Regions from separate parts of the Homo sapiens genome. Here region 2 is linked to region 1. The links come from fine-mapping of genetic effects on gene expression. A gene starts in region 1. The other region holds a variant in brackets. All regions are shown on one strand. Distances are between the middles of the regions. Region 1 holds the start of NME1-NME2 (NME1-NME2 readthrough). Region 2 has its middle 28 kb from the start of TMEM92-AS1.

Evidence for each region. PIP is the estimated chance that this variant, and not a neighbour inherited with it, causes the effect.
Region 2: its variant is the best candidate, but not a certain one, in a credible set for the expression of NME1-NME2 in esophagus mucosa (GTEx, PIP 0.72).

What each region holds. Positions count from the first base shown.
Region 1 is chr17:51,150,458-51,160,912 of GRCh38, reverse strand. NME1-NME2 (NME1-NME2 readthrough) reads right to left here and starts at 7,354. Exons shown (of 9, transcript NR_037149.2): 1 at 7,251-7,354; 2 at 6,469-6,688; 3 at 5,133-5,262; 4 at 832-933. NME1 (NME/NM23 nucleoside diphosphate kinase 1) reads right to left here and starts at 7,354. Exons shown (of 5, transcript NM_000269.3): 1 at 7,251-7,354; 2 at 5,133-5,262; 3 at 832-933. The coding sequence starts at 5,258. RefSeq lists enhancers at 5,156-5,687, 7,084-7,503, 7,287-7,818, 6,842-8,041.
Region 2 is chr17:50,310,529-50,321,065 of GRCh38, reverse strand. No RefSeq gene overlaps it. Among named protein-coding and RNA genes, the nearest start is that of TMEM92-AS1, 28 kb to the right of the region's middle. RefSeq lists enhancers at 1,885-2,463, 2,464-3,043, 4,764-4,893, 9,140-9,658. The variant C/T (reference allele first, on the strand shown) is at 6,212.

The DNA.
Region 1 (10,455 bases):
GTGGGCAGGGCGCAGTGGCTCACGCCTGTAATCCCAGCCCTTTGGGAGGCTGAGGGGAGTGGATCACGAGGTCAGGAGATCGAGACCATCCTGGCTAACATGGTGAAACCCTGTCTCTACTAAAAATACGAAAAGATTAGCTGGGCGTGGTGGCGGGCGCCTGTAGTCCCAGCTACTCAGGAGGCTAAGGCAGGAGAATGGCGTGAACCCGGGAGGTGGAGCTTGCGGTGAGACGAGATGGCACCACTGCACTCCAGCCTGGGCAACAGAGCAAGACTCCGTCTCAAAAAAAAAAAAAAAAAGAAATGCCAAGTGTGAAGTGTCCCATAGCTTCCCAGCACTCAGGAAGTATATGGTCAACACACCCCTAAGAGAGAAGGCCCCTGCCCATGCCTCTGAACTCTTCACCTCCCAACTTCCCTCCCACCCATCAGGCTTCGGGCATTTCAACTCTCCTCCCGTACTTCAAAAAGCCAAGCTCATTCCCACCCTGGGACCTTTGCACATGCTGTTTGCTTGGCTGGAAATGTTTTTCACTGTGATTCTGTACATGGCTGGCTGCTTCTTGTCATTCAGATCGCTGCTTCTTGTCATTCAGATCACAGCTTAAAAATTGCGTTCTTTGATCACCCAATCTAAAGTGATCATTTGCTACTCCTATTCATTTCTGGGCATATTTCATTTCTGAAGCCTATCACTAACCATTAGCTGGTATATGAAAACAGGTATCTATTTGGTCTCATTCATGGCTGTATCCCCAGTGTCTAGAAGAGAGCCTAGCACAGATGACAAGCAATGCATACTTGGAGTATCCCACACAGGCACACTCACCATGGCAACTACCGGCCCTGAGTGCATGTATTTCACCAGGCCGGCAAAGAATGGACGGTCCTTCAGGTCAACGTAGTGTTCCTTGAGAAGATCTTCGGAAGCCTATTCAACAGGACAGAGAATGAGAATAACCCCCAAACCATCTAAGGACATATAATCCATTTAATTTCCCCTCATCCACCCTGCTATGTAAAACATGAGCGGTTGGGCTCACTGATTCTGTTATAACCCAATTCATTCTCCACACTGGAAGGGAGCAGTGACAGGACTAAATGTACTTCTCCAATTTTATATCAGTTGTCTCCCTATTGGCACTGACTGATAATAAAACCACAGAACATTAAAATTAAATCCAGCTATCTCATTTAAAAAAAAATCAAACTCCTGGGCTCAAGTGATCCTCCTGCCTCAGACTCCCGAGTAGGTAGGACTGTAGACACACACTACCAGACTTGGCTAATTTTATTTATTTATTTATTTATTTTGAGACAGAGTCTCCCTCTGTCACCCAGGCTGGAGTGCAGTGGCGTGATCCTGACTTACTGCAACCTCCACCTCCTGGGTTCAAGTGATTCTCCTGCCTCAGCCTCCCAAGTAGCTGGGATTACAGGTGGCGGCCATCATGCCTGGCCAATTTTTGTATTTTTAGTAGAAACAGGGTTTCGCCATGTTGGCCAGGCTGGTCTCAGGTGACCGCAGGTGATCTGCCTGCCTTGGCCTCCCAAAGGGCCGGGACTACGGGCGTAAGCCACCGCGCCCAGCCATACCTGGCTAATTTTAAAAAATTATTTGTAGAGATAGGGTCTCACTATGTTGCCCAGGCTGGTCTCAAACTCCTGGACTCAAGTGATCCTCCAGCCTCCGCCTCCCAAAGTGCTGGGCTTACAGGCGTGACCCACCATGCCTGGCCCTCAACTATCTCATTTTAGACAGGAAAATCAACAATACAATAAATTTCCATTCCCAGAGCAAACCCCAAATAAAATGTTAGAAGGACACCAGGAAGCAAGTCTTGGCATTTAATGAGCAGCAAACTAAACCAGGCCATTACCCAGGGATGCTTCACGTTTATTCAGAGGATAAAAGCCCAGCAGTGATGACCATGTGATTACCAAAGGTATCTGCAAATCACCCAAAAGTGCATGACATCTAGTAATAAATAATTTTGCTGAAAAATGAATTAGAACCTCTCATACTGCAAGGCTAATATGTGGGAACGAATCAAGTTAGCTAGAGAACAAACCATCTGCTTAGCAGTTTCAACTCAGTTTGGCTGTGTTCTCTCTTGTACTGCATATACGCTTGTTAAAATCTAACAGGGTCCCATGGTTTTTCCAGCTCTGTGGTACTGCACTGTATGACGCATATCACACACATCAGAGACACACACAGATGTGGAGACTGGCTGCCCAGAAGCCCCATCATTCAGCCACCAGTTATCATCACTTGCCAAAGTAAAATTACATGGCCATATAATCACTCCGTGGTAGGGATCCAACCCTCGCCCTGTCCTTTCCTATCCAAATGGAAGACTTTTGTTGTGGAAGTCTAACAGACCCTGAGGTGACCTTCCCTTATCAGAATACTTTTTTAATTCTATTAATTGGTTCCAATTATCTTTTTGTTGGTTTTGTTGTTTGTTTTGAGACAGGGTCTTTCTGTCACCCAGGCTGGAGTGCAATGGCATGATCATAGCTCACTGCGGCCTCAAACTCCCAGGCTCAAGCAATCCTCTTGCCTCAGATTCTCAGTAGCTAGGACTACAGGTGTGCACCACTACACCCGGCTAATTATCTTTTTTTGAGACAGGGTCTTGCTCTGTTACCCAGGCTGGAGTGCAGTGGCTCGATCTCCGCTCACTGCAACCTCCACCTCCCGAGTTCAAGCCATCCTCTCGCCTCAGCCTCCCTGGTAGCTGGGACTACAGGCATGCGCCATCACACCCAGCTAAATTTTGTATTTTTAGTAGAGACGGGGTTTCACCACGTTGGCCAGGCTGGTCTCCATCTCCTGACCTCAGATGATCCACCCACCTTGACCTCCCAAAATGCTGGGATTACAGGTGTGAGCCACCACGCCAGGCCCTAACTGATTATCTTTAGTCTGCAAAACAGATCACGGGCTTTTTTTAAGGGCTTGGGGGTTGGGAACCTCAAGTTCTCCCTTGCTTCCTGCCTCCACACCAGATTTAAATGCCCCTTTAGAGTCATGGCAGCTATCCTTCCGTCCATTCTTCACCAAACCCATATATCCTTAATAGGAAATTCAATGTAAAGGAGAAAGTATCTGCACTCAGGGGTCAGAGAGACTCAAGTTAAAATTCCAGTGGCATCACTGTATGCTATCAGGCACATCACTGAACCTCTCCAAGCCTTAGGTTGCTCATCACTAACAACCACGAGAACAGGAGTAAGTACTTCTCAAGGCTGGCATGAAGACTAAATCAGAAAACATATGTGCCCAGCATATGGTAAATGCCTGATCAACAACACATCCATCTCATGTTACCTTCTGCTGTGATCTGAATGTGTCCCCCAAAGTTCGTATGTTGGAAATTTAATCCTCGATGCAACAATGTTGGGAGGTGAGGCCTAATGGGAGGTGTTTAGGTCATGAGGGCTTCACCCTCATGAACAGATTAATGTCTTATCTCAGGAGTGGGTTTGTTATAAAATCAACATCAGCCCCCTCTTGCTCTCTCTCACTCTTGCACTCTCTTGCTATTCCATTCTGTCATGGGATGATACAGCAAGAAAACCTTCATTAGATGCCAGCTCCTTGACCTTGGACACCATATTCTCCTCTCAGCATGAACATCAGTCTACCCTCTTTTACATTAAAGCAGTTTTTCTTTTCTTTTTTTTCTTTTTTTTTGGAGACGGAGCCTCCCAAAGTGCTGGGATGACAGGCGAGTCACTGTGCCAGCCCTAAAGCAGTTTTTCTAAAATATCACATAGGAAGTAAATTGCAAGTCAAACTAAATTTTAAAATGCACTAGAAGGGTCCAAAATTGATTCCCTTTTAGAAAACATACTATCCCCTATTTGATTTGAGAATTGGAATTCTTTTTTTTTTTTTGAGACAGAGTCTCCCTCCCTCTGTTGCCCAGGCTGCAGTGTGGTGCAATATCGGCTCACTGAAACCTCCGCCTCCTGGGTTCAAAAGCAATTCTTTTTTTTTTTTTTTTTTGGAGATGGAGTTTTGCTCTTGTTGCACAGGCTGGAGTGCAATGATGCGATCTCGGTCACTGCAACCTCCACCTCCCCAGTTCAAGCGATTCTCCTGTCTCAGCCTCCCGAGTAGCTGGGATTACAGGCGCATGCCACCACGCCTGGCTAATTTTTGTATTTTTAGTAGAGACGGGGTTTCATCATATTGGTCAGGCTGTCTCGAACTCCTGACCTCAGGTGATCCGCCCGCCTCAGCCTCCCAAAATGCTAGGATTACAGGTATGAGCCACCGCACCTGGCTGGTTCAAGCAATTCTTATGTCTCAGCCTGCCGAATAGCTGGGATTACAGGCACCCACCCTGATGCCCAGCTAATTTTTGTATTTTTAGTAGAGACGGGGTTTCACAATGTTGGCCAGGCTGGTCTTGAACTCCTGACCTCAAGTGACCAGCCTGCCTTGGCTTCCCAAAGTGCTGGGATTACAGGTATGAGCCACTATGCCTCACCCAGCCGAGAATTTGGATTATCTCTAGAATTTGTTTGAAGAAGGGTTATTGGTCAATCAATCCTTTGCATTTATCAAAAGATTGCTTTGTAAGTAGCTTGCAGGTACATCTGCTCTCTGCTGTTTCTGAAGAACCTCCCCAAAACCAAAACCATAGTTTTCCTCCACCAGCTCCTATGATACCTAATATATGCTAAACAATAAGCATTTATTAGTGTCTAGTAATTGATGATGGAAAGACTTTCTTGCTAAAAAACAACCTGTCTCAAAGGGGGAAAAAAATCTCTCTAAAATTATCTGCTCAGGAAGCTCAAGACCAAGAACTCAAACATGCTCAGCTCTCAGTCAGAAATTACAGAGATGCAGTCATATGTGGAACTCTGCACTGCTTTTCCCGTAGCAATGCACCTCCTATTACAGAGACTATTTTGGAAAATCCTAAATAACTTGGTTTGTTCCAAGATGTAGCCAAACGCTAGGGCACTGAGGAGTTTCCAGGTCTCAAGACACTTGTGTTCACTCTACCGTGGAGAACTTTAAATAAGAAAGACGGGGAGAAACAGGTTAATCACAGTGTTCTCCTATACTATGAAGGAATCAAAATGGGAACAATGAAGTCCACTTACTTGCATGAATTTCAGACCAACAAGGCGGAATCCTTTCTGCTCAAAACGCTTGATAATCTCTCCCACAAGACCCCGCTGGACCCCATCTGGTTTGATCGCAATGAAGGTACGCTCACAGTTGGCCATGGTTCTGGGGATAGGCAGGTAGAGGAATGAAACAGCAGTGAATCACTTGCCTACAGCGTCATCCGTCTCAAGCGGATTATCCCATAAAGCTGGTTTAAATCTGTCAGGTCAGCTCCAGGTCTCCCTCTGGTAAAAACCCAATTCCTCCCCAGTCCCCTGATCTATGAACTAATATGTCAATGTGGGAAAGGATCCAAAAGCAAGGACTATAATTTCTATCCCATTTGATTTATTTTATTTTCATTTGTTTTGGTTTTTGTGGGGTTTTTTTAGAGATGGGGTTTCGCTATGTTGCCCACGCTGGTCTCGAACTCTTGTCCTCAAGTGATCTGCCCACCTCAGCCTACCAAAGTGCTGGGATTATGGCCATGAGCCACCACACCCAGCCCCATTTGATTTTTTTTTTTTTTTTTGGTATGGAGTCTTGCTCTTTCGCCCAGGATGGAGTGCAGTGGTGCGACCTTGGCTCACTGCAACCTCCACTTCCCAGGCAAGCAATTCTCCTACCTCAACCTCCTAAATAGCTGGGACTACAGGTGCGTGCCACCACACCCAGCTAATTTCTGTATTTTTTTTTACTAGAGATGGGGTTTCACCATGTTGGCCAGGCTGGTCTCCAACTCCTGACCTCAAGTAATCTGCCCACCTCAGCCTCCCAAAGTGCTGGGATTAAAGGCGTGAGCCCCATGAGCCTGGCCACCATTTGATTTAATAAGCTTCTTTTAAACATCTACTGTGTACCAAACACTGCGGTGGAACTAGGATACAGGATGTTAAAAACAAGGCACTATCTTTCTCAATAATCAAGCTTGGGAGAAACTACACTGATGAAAAGTTTTACTAATGTGAAAGTGATGTCCGGTACAAAGCAGTAAGAAATAATAGTTTGACTTAATGCCACAGCCATAGCATTAGGGGTTTTAGAGAATATATCTTTACAACCCCCTTCATTTTACAAATGAGGAAACAGGACCACAGCACCAGAATGAAGGCCAAAACCCAGCATTCCCAACCCATTAATCCATTCTTGTAATGTTATGCTACACTTTACAATGCAAAGAATATTTTGACTAGCCAATAAACGGTGGGGTGTGGGAGAACTACAGACATTAGGAATATCTGATACGGGACATCATACTGAAAGGAAGCCTAGAGAGTAACTATTCCGTCCAGATCCCTCATTTTACAGAAGACTGCGCTCATGACCTACCCTGTATCACAGCTTGAGATAGGAGGCCCCTCGCCTTGAAAGACGATCCCTAAAGTAGACAGTAGCACCATCTCTTGGCCCCATCTTCCTGTCCTTTAGTTAACCTCTTCTTACAGCATCTTAGCACTGTAGTCCAATTTTCTGTTTGTGTGTCTGCCTCCCCTGCACACCAGGCTGACTTAGTCCTGTGTAGAGACTCTATGGTACCTAGCCACAGGGCCTAGCAGTCAATAGGAGCAAAGAAAATCATTTATCACCATTCTGCAACTTCCAAAAAAAAAAAAAGAGAGAGAGACAAAGCCCAAAGACTGCGGAGAATCGCACGATGGGGTGCGGGGCAAGCATAAATTGTCCAGGAGAAAACAGGACTAAAGCGCCAGAAATACACCCTAAAAATGTCCCTCCACATCGGTCCCGGTGACACAACAGTAAGCACTCAGTGCTTGCTGAATGAATGACACACACACCCGTCATTTATTCAGCAAGCACTTACAGAGCGCCAACTCCGTGCCCGGCACTGCTCTCGACAGACACAAATAAGGCACAGCCCTGTCGTCGCGGCCTGACGAGAAAGGCGGCCACCGACAAAGGCGAGTCCACGTGGCGTGGGACGTGCGCCGACCGGTCTGCACTTGTCCACAGGCGCTCCCTGCCCCTCCTCCCATCCGATCCTCCTCGCCGCCTCTTAGAGCTGAACTCATCTCTTCACTAACTCCTCACCTAACCCACTCCCGCGACTACACTCCTTTCTTTTTCCTCTCAGGATCCCGAACACCTCTTACCCTTCCAGCTGCTTAGGTTTGAACTCCGGCTGCAGCCGCCAGCACCCGAAACGCGCCCGGGACCCACGTGGTTCGCAGCACTTGCACGCACGGAACGCTTCTGCGCAGATCCGCTGCCGGAGAGCCCATTTTGCAGAACACCGCTCGCCCACGCTTCCTCTTGGGAGTAGGCAGTCATTCTAGGGAACAACTTTCTGCAGTTTAACTTCCGGCGCTAGCTTTTTCAGACCTTTCCGGTTAGCTGCTTGCTTTCTTCTCTCCACCCCCGGGTTCTCTGACTCACTTCCTTCGTTCGCGAGCAAATTGGCTTCCCGAGAGGTGGCGCTCACACGTTGCGTGAAGTCCAAAGAGTGCCTGACCTAGAAGTAGACTTTTCGCTCCCGCTTTGTGTTTATTCACCTTTTCTAGCCTGTCAAGCAAAAAATTTTGAGTACCTACTACGTGGACGCATTATTCTAGGCCCTAGGGATAAAACAGTATGCTCTCTTGGAGCTTCTGGGAGGGATGGGAGTATAGGAAAACAAGAAGCAAATAAGCAAATTAATATGTAATAGATCGCATTTTGTAAGTGCTGTGAAGAAAAGGCCAGAGAAATCTCTGAGTAAGTGATAATAGAATAGACCTGCATGAAGTGAGGGAGCCAGCCCAGTGATTCTTCGAGAGCCAAGTATTACGGTGGACATCGAGTGGTGGAAAATGCCGTTAGAATAGAGCCAAATCTTATGTTGTGAGATGCTAATACAGATTTTGCACAAGGCATGACATCATCACTAACAAAAAAACATTCCCACTGCTCTAAGGGGAAATGAACGGGGGAAAGGTACAAAAATGGAATCAGGAGCCGTTTCAACAAATGATGCTGGAGCAATTGGACGAATATAGACCCAAAGAACCTCAACCTAAACCTCTCACCTTATACAAAATTTACTCAAAATGAATCATAGATTTAAATGTAAAACAATAAATCACTTATGGGGAAAAAAAAAGTTAAAAAAAATCCTCAGGACCTAGGGCCAGGCAAATAGTTTTTAGACGACACCAAAAGACCAATCTATACAGGGAAAAAGTTGATAAATTGGAACTTACTGAAATTTAAAACTTTTGGCCGAGCGCGGTGGCTCACGCCTGTAATCCCAGCACGCTGGAAAGCAGCGGCGGGAGGATCACTTGAGCTCAGGAATTCGAGACCAGCCCGGGCAACATAGTGAAACCCCGTCTCTACTAAACATACAAAAATGAGCCGGGCGTGGTTGCAGGCGCCTGTAGTCCCAGCTACTCGGGAGGCTGAGGCAGGAGAATCGCTTGAACCCGGGAGGCAGAGGTTGCAGTGAGCCGAGATTGCGCCAGGGCACTCCAGCCTGGGTGACAGAGCGAGACTCGGTCTCAAAAAAATAAAAAATAAATAAAATAAATAAGTAAAATTTCATTATTCTCCTGTTTTCTTTTTTTTCTTTTTGAGACCGAGTATCGCTTTGGCGCCCAGGCCGGAGCGCAGTTGCACGATGTCGGTTCATTGCAAACTCCGCCATCCGGGTTCAAGCGATTCTCGTGACTCAGCTTCCCGCGTAGCTGGGACTACAGGCGTCTGCCACCACGCCCGGTATTTTCTTTTTCTTTTTTTTTTTTTTTTTTTGAGACGGAGCCTTGCCAGGTCGCCCAGGGTGGAGTGCAGTGGTGCGATCTCGGCTCACTGCAACCTCCGCCTCCCGGGTTCAAGCGAATCTCCTGCCCCAGCCTCCCGAGCAGCTGGGATTACAGGTGCCCACCACCACACCCGGCTACTTTTTGTATTTTTAGGAGAGACGGGGTTTCACCATGTTGGCCAGGTTGGTCTCAAACTCTTGACCTCGTGATCCGCCCGCCTCAGCCTCCCAAAGTGCTGAGATTACAGGCATGAGCCACCGCGCCTGGCCCTAATTTTTGTATTTTTAGTAGAGACGGGTTTTCACTATGCTGGCCAGGCTGGTATCGAACTCCTGACCTCAAGTGTTCCATCTGCCTCGGCCTACCAAAGTGCAGGGATTACAGGCATGAGCCACCGTGCTCGGCCTTTATTTATTTATTTGTTTATTTATTTATTGAGATGCAGTCTTGCTCTGTCACCCAGGCTGGAGTGCCTTGGCGGATCTCAGCTCACTGCAACCTCTGCCTCCCACGTTCAAGTGATTCTCCTGCCTCAGCCTCCCGAGTAGCTGGGACTACAGGCGTGCACCACCACGCCCGGCTAATTTTTGTATTTTTAGTAGAGACGGGGTTTCACCATGTTGGCCAGGCTGGTCTCAAACTCCTGACCTCAGGTGATCCGCCCACCTTGGCCTCACAGAGTGCTGGGATTATAGGCGTGAGCCACTGTGCCCTGCAGAAAAGAAATTTAAAACCTTTGTCCTGTGAAAGACCTTTTGAAGAGGACGAAAAAACAAGCTAGAGTGGAAGGAAATATTTCCAAACCACATATCAGATAAAGGCCTTCTCTTCATTTGAAGGTTTGAATATTTGAAGAACTCTGAACGCTCAACAGGTTAAAAAAATCCAATTAGAAAATGGGCAAAAGACATGAATAGACATTTCATTGAACAGGATATACAGAGGCAAGAAAGCACATGAAAAGATGTTCAACATCATTAGCCACCAGGGAAATTCAAACTAAAACCAAAATCGGATATTACTACATGCCTATCAGAATGCTAAAATGAAAGTAGTGATACACCAAACGCTATTAAGGAGGTATAGAAACTGGATCCACATTACTGGTAGGAATATAAAATTGTACAGCCACTCTGAAAAAGTTTGATAGTTTCTTTTTTTTTTTTTTTTTTTTTTTTTGAGACGGAGTTTCGCTCTGTCGCCCAGGCTGGAGTGCAGTGGCGCGATCTCGACTCACTGCAAGCTCCGCCTCCCGGGTTCACGCCATTCTCCTGCCTCAGCCTCCCGTGTAGCTGGGACTACAGGGGCGCGCTACCATGCCCGGCTAATTTTTGTATTTTTAGTAGAGACGGGGTTTCACCGTGTTAGCCAGGATGGTCTCGATCTCCTGACCTCGTGATCCGCCCGTCTCGGCCTCCCAAAGTGCTGGGATTACAGGCGTGAGCCACCGCGCCCGGCCGATAGTTTCTTAAAAAACTAAACATGTGCTTACCATATGACCCAGCCATTGCACTGTTGGGCGTTTATCCAACAGGAATGAAAACTTATGCTCTGTTCACAC
Region 2 (10,537 bases), 840 kb after region 1:
ACTAAAAATACAAAAATTAGCTGGGCATGGTGGCGCCTGCCTGTAATCTCAGTTACTCTGGTGGCTAAGGCAGGAGAATCGCTTGATCCCGGAAGGCAGAGGTTGCAGTAAGCTGAGATCGCACCTCTGCACTCCAGCCTGGGTGACGGAGCAAGATTCTGTCTCAAAAAAATAAATAAATAAATAAATAAATAAAGAGAGAGAGACCAGGAAAATGACTACCAGGTGGGTCTGTGGACCTAATGGACATACTGTGAAGCTGGTCATGGCTGGGACTATACTTATTACTTGACCCCATATTCCACCACCCTAATAAGGTGCCGTGATGATGCTTCAGTTTCCTTGGTATCAATGTCAATTTGGACTCTATGTTCAACAGTTCTCAAAAGATCTGCATTCTTTCCCCAGTGTATGATTACTCAAGTTCTCCCTGTGGAAGGGCTGGTGGAACCTTATCCTGTCCATATGCCAGCTGATGCAGTGTCTTTCTTCATTCAGGACGTTCTAGATCTTAACTTAGGCTGGAAACAGGACAAGGAATCATGACTTTTTGTTGGGTGGTTGATGTTTTAAAATAAGCTCTTGGGCCGGGCGCGGTGGTTCATGCCTGTAATCCCAACACTTTGGGAGGCTGAGGCAGGCGGATCATCTTAGGTCAGGAGTTTGAGACCAGCCCGACCAACAAGGAAAAGCCCCCATCTCTACTAAAAATACAAAATTAGCTGGGCTTGGTGGTGCATGCCTGTAATCCCAGCTACTTGGGAGGCTGAGGCAGGAGAATCGCTTGAACCCTGGAGGTGGAGGTTGTGGTGAGCTGAGATCACACCACTGCACTCCAGCCTGGGCAACAAGAGCAAAACTCTGTCTCAAAATAAATTAAAAAAATAAAATAAAATAAGCTGTTTTTGGCTGCTCATCTATCTTACCACTAGGAATATTATGTTCTATTAACCATTTCCGGCTTGGCATGGTAGCTCATACTTGTAATCCCAACACTTTGGGAGGCCAAGGCGGGCAGATCACTTGAGTGCAGGAGTTCAAGACCAGTCTGGGCAACACGGTGAAACCCCATCTTTACTATTAAAAATATATCTTAAAAAAGAAAGGAAAAAAACACCATTTACTTAGTTCTCTGCAGCAGGACCTCTGGCTGCCTCCCTGACCTTGCTGCTCAGTGTGAGAATCGTGCCCACCTTCTGACAGATAAGTGCTGCTATCAGAGGCGTTGAAACCAGAGCAACTCCATCTTGAATAGGGGCCGGGTAAAATGAGACCCACTGGGCTGCATTCCCAGACAGTTAGGCATTCTAAGTACAGGATGAGATAGGAGGTTGGCACAAGATATAGATCATAAAGACCTTGCTGATAAAACAGTTTTCAGTAAAGAAGCCGGCTAAATCCCACCAAAACCAAGATGGTGATGAAAGTGACCTCTGGTCGTCCTCACAGCTACACTACCATCAGCGCCATGACAGTTTACAAATGCCGTGGCAATGTCAGGAAGTTACCCTATACGGTCTAAAAAGGGGAGGCATGAATAATCCACCACCTGTTTAGCATATCATCAAGAAATAACCATAAGAATGGGCAACCAGCCACCCTCGGGGCTGCTCTGTCTATGGAGTAGCCATTCTTTTATTCCTCTACTTTCTTAATAAACTTGCTTTCACTTTACTCTACAGACTCACCCTGAATTCTTTCTTGCGTGAGATCCAAGAACCCTCTCTTGCGGTCTGGATCGGGACCCCTCTCCTGTAACACTGCCACTTGGCCTTGATTATTTTGGGCTCCTCTTATCCCTATTACTATCAGCTCCCCCCACCCCCACCACCCCGCTCTGTAACAGCATCTCCCACCCTCACGGCCTCCCCGAGAATGGCCAACGATAGACTTCTCGATGCTGCTGCTCCTCCTCCACCAGCACCTTCTTTACTGCTTTGGTAAAAGAGTGATTTATGGGCTCTCCCAGGGAACATAGTCAGCTGGGGAATTTGCAGGCCCGACACAGGCTGATCCGGTTGAGCAAACCCTCTCCTTTGATCCATTTGATCCCTTCTGCCATCTGCCATGCTGTTTGAACTTTTCTCCTTAACTTAGTTTGAGCCAGTGCTGTTTCTAGGCTTCCAAGAGCCATTCTAGCACCTTCTCCTGGGGTCCTTGCCAGGGGGTAAAATCCTGCATCACAGGAGCACACTCCTATTCAATATTCTTTCCTATCAAGCTCTATGTTTTGATCCTCATCCTCAGAATCCAGTCCCATCTCTACTCTCCTGAATCCTGCCAGCACATGTTGGCAAGTTCCTGCAGCTCCTCCAGGGTACAGTCTCATTCCTTCCTCAGCAGCAGGTCTGGCGCATCCCTGGCCGGTTTTGTTGTGACTTGATAGCTATTTGTCTGGTGGCCAGGAGGGAGGTGCATTTCATCTTGCAAAGCAGAGGCCCTGCACTATCTTCAAGCATGAGGGGAGTTTTAGCCCTTAACAGTGGGCAGGGGGCCGCTTCTGCAGGCCCAGTGGGTTCAGTGGAATCTGGAGATTCAAGATTTTTTTAGTGCATTGACCCAGATGTGCCATCCCAAGTCTCTGAGTTCTGATCCTTCTCTACTGGGGTATGACCTGACAGAGCGGACGTGCTCTGATTGAGAATCCAACCTCTCTGAAGCTGCATTACCCTTATAATGAAGCTTCGGGCTGATCCTTAGCTTTTTCTGCCCTCCAGCTACAGAGTCTCTATATGCTGCCAAGAGACTTTCACACTTTGTCTCAAACTGATGATTAAGTACTCTCAAACTTTCATTGTCTTCCTTTAAGCATTGCTAGCCCCAGAGCCATCTGATTTCACAGTCCTTATATTACTAGTTCACTCAAACCTCTCAAATGCCTGGGAATTTGCTTCCACCAGTGCCTCCCTTCCATCAGTTTCCCATCATTCCTGCACATCCCCAGTGAAAGTTTAAACAAGTACACCACGCTAGAATGCCAGGGGCAATTATTGCTCCACCTTCCAGCTCCAAACACCTATTTTAGAATCTGCTTCCTAAAAATTACTCCTGGCCTCAGCTGCCTCATGTCTGGGTCCCTCCCTGCCAATAGATTTGTGATGGATATTTACACGCTGGAAGTGACTGGGCCATGGTCTCAGAAACAATACTTGTAAGGTAGTAAACGAAGCAGGTTGAGCAGAGGGAGAAGTGGAAAAGTGGAACTGGGTTGCAGTTGCAGCACAGCCTCAACTGATGCTAAAGGGAGCTTTGGACCTGAGGTGGCCCTTCAGAGTTGTCTCAGATCTAGGCAGGAGGACTACGCTTTTGTACTTCTGCACTGACCAATCATTGGCAGATCACATAAAGCTTGGGCTAGGCGGAGGATAGTCTTTGGATGGGAATAAATAAAGCCTGGGCATTTATGAACATGAAACAATGCCTGAAGGCTCAGCTGCGAGAGCTGTGAGCCATCAGCAGCCAATCTTCCCTACAGCTGGAGAATGAGTGGTCTGGTTTTGAAGGGGAGAGAGAGAGGTAGTGCACTCTAGGAGCCACTGACCTGAGGAAGGGGTTGACCCAGCAGAAGACAGAGAGGAAGGGCATAAAGACACCAGGTTCTTGGTGACATCCTTTGAGCTGCAGGATGAAATCCTGCCTGAAGCCACATTTCAAGTATACATTTCAGGTAAGCATGTAGGCAAGTTCTCTTTGTTTAAGCCACGTGAGTTGGGATTTCTGCTGCTGGATAAAATCTTGCCTGAAGCGGCATTTTATTTGCACTTTTCTCTAAAGCATGCAGGCAAATTCTCCTTGTTTAAACCATGTGAATTGGGCTTTCTATCACTTGCAACATAAAGACTCTCCATGGGCTGGGCATGGTGACTCAGGCCTGTTATCCCAACACTTTGGGAGGCTGACAAGGGAGGATTGCTTGAGCTGAGTTCAAGACCAACCTGGGCAACATAGTGAGACCTCATCTCTACTACAAATTTAAAAAAATCAGCTGGACATAATGGTGCACGCCTGTAGTCCCCGCTACTCGGGAGACTGAGGTGGAAGGATCACTTGAGCCCAGGAGATCAAAGCTTCAGTGAGCCATGATTGTACTACTGCACTCCAGCCTGGGTGACAGAGTGAGACCCTGTGTCAGAAAAAAGAAAAGAAAAGAAAAGGCCAGACACAGTGGCTCATGCTTGTAATCTCAGCACTTTGGGAGGCCAATGTGGGAGGATTACTTGAGCCCAGGAGTTCAAGACCAGCCTGGGCAACATAGTGAGACCCCATCTTTAAAAAAAAAAAAAAAAGAGTATCCATGAATTCAAGTACAAACTTTAACAGTTTATTGCCTTTTTAAAAATCAAAAGCTAAAATTAAATTTGTGATTTGGAAAATTTATTAGTAAAAAAGGTTTCTGCATAAATTAATGATGGTTCTTTTCTTGCTCCATAGTGCTACCTGAATACGGACTGAAAATTACTTATGGAAATATTTACAAGCTTATACTGCAGTGTAATTGGTGCTTGTTTGAGTGCTTCATTAATATTTAATTTTGCATCATTTCTTGAGCTAACTCATTGGCACATTTTCAGCATTCCACTGACAGACTTAACATAAATCACATTAATAATAAATGGCATGAGAGCTTTTTGTATTTCTTTTCTGAGCTATCATTTAAAGATAATTTTCTATGACAGGGAATTTTAAATGTACTATTAAAGATAAGACTTTCTTAATGTCTACTTCAGCAACCAACAGGAAATACAATGTGATTTTAATTACATTTATGTCTTGGGTTTTGACACAGTGCTTTCTGCTATTAACTCTTGTGAAGTGTACGTCTTCATAAAGCATTTTCAGCCATCCATGAAAAGACAGACTTGCTCAGACAAGTACTCGAAACTTAAACTATACAAGCAACTCCATGACATGAAGCAAGACAGATGTTTCTTTGTGGGAACTGGGGCTGGTCATGCTTGTCCGAGTGGCAAGGACCTAAATTCTTTAGGTGGCCAATATTTCTGTAGTCAGACAGTCTCCCCAAAGCCAGAAAGAGTGGAACCCACAAATTCCCTGGTCTCAGAAGAGAACATCAGCTTAGCTTGGCAGGGCTGTCTTAGGAGCCTGTCTCTGCAGGCTCACTGTGCTCATTTCTAAATGTACACCTGCAAAAGCATGAAATTAACACTTTAAACAAGTCACATTTGCCAATAAATAATTCAAAAGTTTTATGTGGAAAAGAGAAAATATGATAAACCACTGAAAGCGTATCTTTAAAATGCATGTCATAATTAAGAATTAACCACCAAAATTTAAAAAAAAAACCCTTAAAATAGTTTAAAATTCTTTTTTTTTTTGAGACGGAGTCTTGCTATGTCACCCAGGCTGGAGTGCAGTGGCGTGATCTCAGCTCACTGCAAGCTCCACCTCCCAGGTTCACGCCGTTCTCCTGCCTCAGCCTCCCTAGCAGCTGGGACTACAGGCGCCTGCCACCACACCCAGCTGTTTTTTTGTATTTTTAGTAGAGACGGGGTTTCACCATGTTAGCCAGGATGGTCTCAATCTCCTGACCTCATGATCCACCTGCCTCGGCCTCCCAAAGTGCTGGGATTACAGGCGTGAACCACTGCACCTGGCCAAAATAGTTTAAAATTCTTAAAAAACATTTATGGCAAAGCACATGGATACTGAAATTAAACACAAAAATGATTTCCCCCCCCCATATTGCTTGTAGAACAGTCAGGATTCTTTTGATTGCGAGTGACAGAAATCCAGTATAAAAGGCAATAGTAGATTAAAATAACCAAAAATGCCTGTTTTGTTACAAGTAAGAATAGGGGCCAGGCGTTATGGCTCACGCCTGTAATCCCAGCACTTTGGGAGGCCGAGGCGGGCAGATCACTTGAGTCCAGGAGTTCAAGACAGCCTGAGCAACCCCGTCTCTACGAAAATAAAAAAATTAGCTGGTTGCGGTGGTGAGTACCTGTAGTCCCAGCAACTTAGGAGGCTGAGGTGGGTGGATCAATTGAGCCTGGGAGGTTGCACCACTGCACTCCAGCCTGGGAGACAGAGCAAGACCCTGTCTCAAAAAAAAAAAAAGATGAAATTCTTCCTCCACTCCCCTACATCTCATCCCCACTTCCAAGGGGATCCTAGAGGGCTGTCATAGTTATTGGTTTTGTGTGCTCATCAGCCTTCTTCCGGTATTAGCACCCCTGTTTTGCAGCAAGTG[C/T]GCCCACCTCCCTGGAGTCCTGGTGAGGGTGCTGTCAATCACAGTGCCCACTGGCTTCTGCTCCAGCATGGACATGTGACTCAGGCTGAGCTAGCACCTAACATCTGCTTTCCTGTTCTGACAGTTGCCACCTCCCCACTCCCCATGACTTGAATTTGTGGAGCCACAGCTAATCCCTGAAGCCAGAAAGAGTAGAACCCACAAATTCTCTGATGTCAGAAGAGAACATCAGCTTAGCTTGGCAGGGCTGTCTTAAGAGCCTGTCTCTGAGGGCTCACCGGGCTGGTTTCTAAATGTGCACCCACCATCTGTTGGATGATTCATACCCGGCTGGATACAAAGTCGGGGCTCCATTCGGGTCTTTGGACTTGAATTCATTCCAAAATCAAAGGTGTCAAGATTGGTGGCTTAAAATTCTAGAATCATTTTGGGAAATGAGGACGGCATTTGCCCTTGTACAATCTCTTGATGTGTCTCCCATTTTTATAAAAGTGAAAAGGAAGTTCTGAGAGGCTCCCTGAGGCAACTCCTTCCCCATCTGGGATTGCGCCCCTCCAGACCAGAGACTGAGCGCCCCTGAGGGGCTCCCACCCCGACTCCTCTCCCCCAAGACATGCTGGACAGGGCTGATGGGCTATCTTCCCTCTTCCTTCTTCCCTTCCTTTTCTTTCCCCGCTGTTTTTAAACTTCATTTGCAGACATTTGAGTTAGTTAATCATATGCCTTAGTTCATGGCACTTTCTCATCACTAGTCCATGTAAGTCCCCTCTCTTGTTTGTAATTATTCTCTTTTATCCACATATCCTATCCCAGTCTCCAGCCCCTCCCCATCATAGGCACATGTTCTTTTTTTGTTTTTGAGGCAGGGTCTTGCTCTGTTGCCCAGGCTGGAGTTCAGTGGCATGATCACGGCTCCTGCATTCTCTGCCTGGTCCCAGGCTCAAGTGATCCTCTGGCCTCAGCCTCCCAAGTAGCTGGGGACTACAGGCACATGCCACCAATGCCAGCTAATTTTTGTATTTTTTGTAGAGACAGGGTTTTGCCATGTTGGCGAGGATGGTCTCAAATTCCTGGGCTCAAAGTGATCCGCCTGCCTCGGCCTCCCAAAGTGCTGGGATTACAGGCATGAGCCACCGCGCCTGGCCATAGGCTCATAATCTGTGAGTCTTTCATTTGCATGTATTCTTGTACAGGGAGTATTGATGTTTTGTATTTTTTCTAGGCATACATTTTAAATGTTCACAAATGCTATCGGGTTATATATCTCATTCTGTTGCTTGTTTGTTTCACCCATTCTTATATTTCTGAGATCGGTCCATGTGGCCCTGGGTGCATCTAATCCATTGCTTCTAACTTTGTAAAGTACTCCATGGTGTGTGTGCTGAGTAATCTTCATCTGCCCCCAGGGCCCATTTCCCACCTTCCAGTTGGGTTTGGTCTTTGAAAGGCACCATAAGAGATCAGAGGGTAGGCACAAGTAAGGTGGGATATTGATTTGACTAGACAGGCTGGGCATAGCAGTGGTGGCATTATTCTCCCAACGGCCACAGCTCCTGCCCAGAGGCTCTCTCCTACAGCCTGGGGACCGCCTCCTGCCCTTACCCTCAGGCATGGTGGAGGCAAGAGTGCCCCATGGATGCTTGTCTGAGGGTGCTTCCCTGCCCCTTGTTGGTATCCCTAAACGCCACCCACATCATATACGTTATTCCATCATGGAACTCTTCTCAGTCGTCCTGCGGAATCAGACTTATTCAGCATGGATTTGCCACATGTGTTCCTCTTTGCCCACCCAGTGGTAGACTCCTGCCTTGCCACTAACTCCCTGCCACCACACCTATCTCCAGGAGAAACAGCTTCACTCTTCTTTTCACCTCTGGTCCTTTCCTTTCCAGGTGGGGTGCATTCCCCTGACTCCTGCAGCTGTGGCATCTAGGAGAGGGGCCCATCCTTGTCTTTCTAATCACCTGACCCAGCGGTTCTCAACCAGGCGTCATGTCAGCCCCATGGGACATTTGGCAATGTCTGGGGACATTTTGCTGGTCATGACTGGGAGGTGGGGGTGATGAGATGCTGTGGACATCCAGTGGGTGGAGGCCAGGGATGCTGCTCAGTCCATTCCTCCAAAGCATAGGACAGCCCCTCCATGGCAAAGACGTACCTGGTACTGAATGTCAGTGGCACTGAAGTGGAGCAGCTCTGAGTTAACACAAAACCACTTGGACTTTAGATTTAATCCTTTCCTGGGCTTTTGATTAGTTCTTGGGGAGGTGGCGGGAGACCTCCTGAGATCTTGCTTCATGCTGCCTGTGAAAGCAGCTTTGTTAGGCTAAGCTCCTGGCCTCGCTCCACCCTCTCCCTCATTCCTCCCCAGGGCAGGAGGTGTGACATCTGATTCTCAAGTTTCTGAGTTTCCACGGAGGAGCCAGGCAGGCCCTCCCAGCTCCTTCCCTCTGCGTGGGAGCTGGGTGCCCATGGGAAGCCCACATTTAGCATAGTAAGCTACAGAGGACCATTTGCCCAGCACTGCCTGTGACCAGGGGACAGGTCAGCCTGGTTCCGGGGTACAATGTTGGGAAATCTGTTGTTGTTGCTCAGCTAAGCCATGCTCTTTTCCAGCTGTGACAGTAATAAAGCTGACTTTATTTAAATTTTTTTTTTTTTTTTATAGATAGACTCTTTCTCTGTCACCCAGGCTGGAGTGCAGTGGCGTGATTGTAGCTCACTGTAACCTCAAACTCCTGGGCTTAAGCAGATCTCCCACTTCAGCCTCCCAAGTAGCTGGGACTACAGGTGTGCATCACCATGCCTAGCTACTTTTAAAAATTTTTCATAGAGATGGGATCTTGCTGTGTTGCCCAGGATGGTCTCAAACTCCTGGCCTCGAGTGATCCTTCTGCCCTCAGCCTCCCAAAGCACTAGGAATATAGGCGTTAGCTACCACATCCAGCCAAAGCTGACATTGTGATTGTCATCTACCTAGCTTCTTTGCCAATCTCTCATCTGGTTCAGAGCTGCAGGAGAGAACATCATAAAGTGTAATTCACTGGGACTCTTCAATGCCAACAGTCACTTTAATATCACTGGAACCTCCCTCTCTGCCTCAGGCCAGTCCAGGCAAACACGCAGTAGGGCACCGGGATTAGGAGCACTGGCCCATTGTTAGTGCATGGGGATTCCCCATTTACACCTGATAGGAGAAAATGGCCTAGCCAGGTTAAGTGGAAGCAGCGGAGTGCTGGCTCAGGTGTCCGACCAGCATAGGTGGTGCTGAACACAGGGGCTCAGATGATTCACTCAGGACCAGTTCCTCTCTTCCCATTGCTTGGTTTCTTTCTTCTGTGTTGACCATACCCTCAGGAAGGCTCTCCTCTTAGAGTGGCTGCCAGCAGCAACCAGACTTTATATTACAAGTTCAAATCCTACTGAGAACAGCAGGAAGTCTTTTTTTCTGAGCATCCCAGCAGTGCTGTGATTCTATGGCCTGGGGTGTGTCTGTCTCCTGAACCAATGATTAATCAGAACCAAAACCATCTTCCCCACACTTGTCCTGGACAGTGAGAATGGAAATCACACCTTACAGTCTAGAGTAACATGACCTGGTTATGCCACTGTCTTCATTTGCATTTCTCTACTCTTCTGGGACTGTCCTGCTTAAGCAAATGGTTCAACCGTTCATTGCAGCAACTTCCAGGAAGACCTATCAGCTCTTCAGTGGAAAGCATCAACAGTTTGAACCCTAAGATTCTTTGAATATTGTGGTTCAAAATCCTAGCCTGCTTTTCCCACCAATCCAGGACTGTTGTATTGTGATCTCTGCCCTGTCTGAAGCAAGCCAACTCTCCCTCCCCCAAAGACTCACTTTAAACCAAACTTCCAGTTCTCCGTACATCCTGACCTTATCTTTCACCTCTGCTGGAAGCAATAAGCTCAGCTTTGTCTTATCAGTTGGTCGTGATGGTAATGTCTGGGGAGCCCACTTCTGACACTAAGATGGTAGAATCCCCCAATGGGAAGGGGACTGAGCCCATGAATAACTCTTGTAAGTGCCAGTGAGAGGGTCAGCTTCAAATATGTCCCAAGTCCAGAGAGCACAGAGGCTGGGGCTGCATGGCAGCATCAGTGAAATAAGAGCTTTCCTGCCTCTCTTTCTATCATCTCTGTCCTTGAACTTCAGCCCTGGATGAGTCAGAATCCTCTGTTAACAGAAACGGAGAGGAGTGAAAGGCTGGGAGGGCTTCACAGGTGGGCTTCTCTGGAAGCAGATGCAGAGGTGGAGTTTGGCCTTCAGGAGGCTTATTTCTTAGGAAACAATACCTGAGTAAGGGA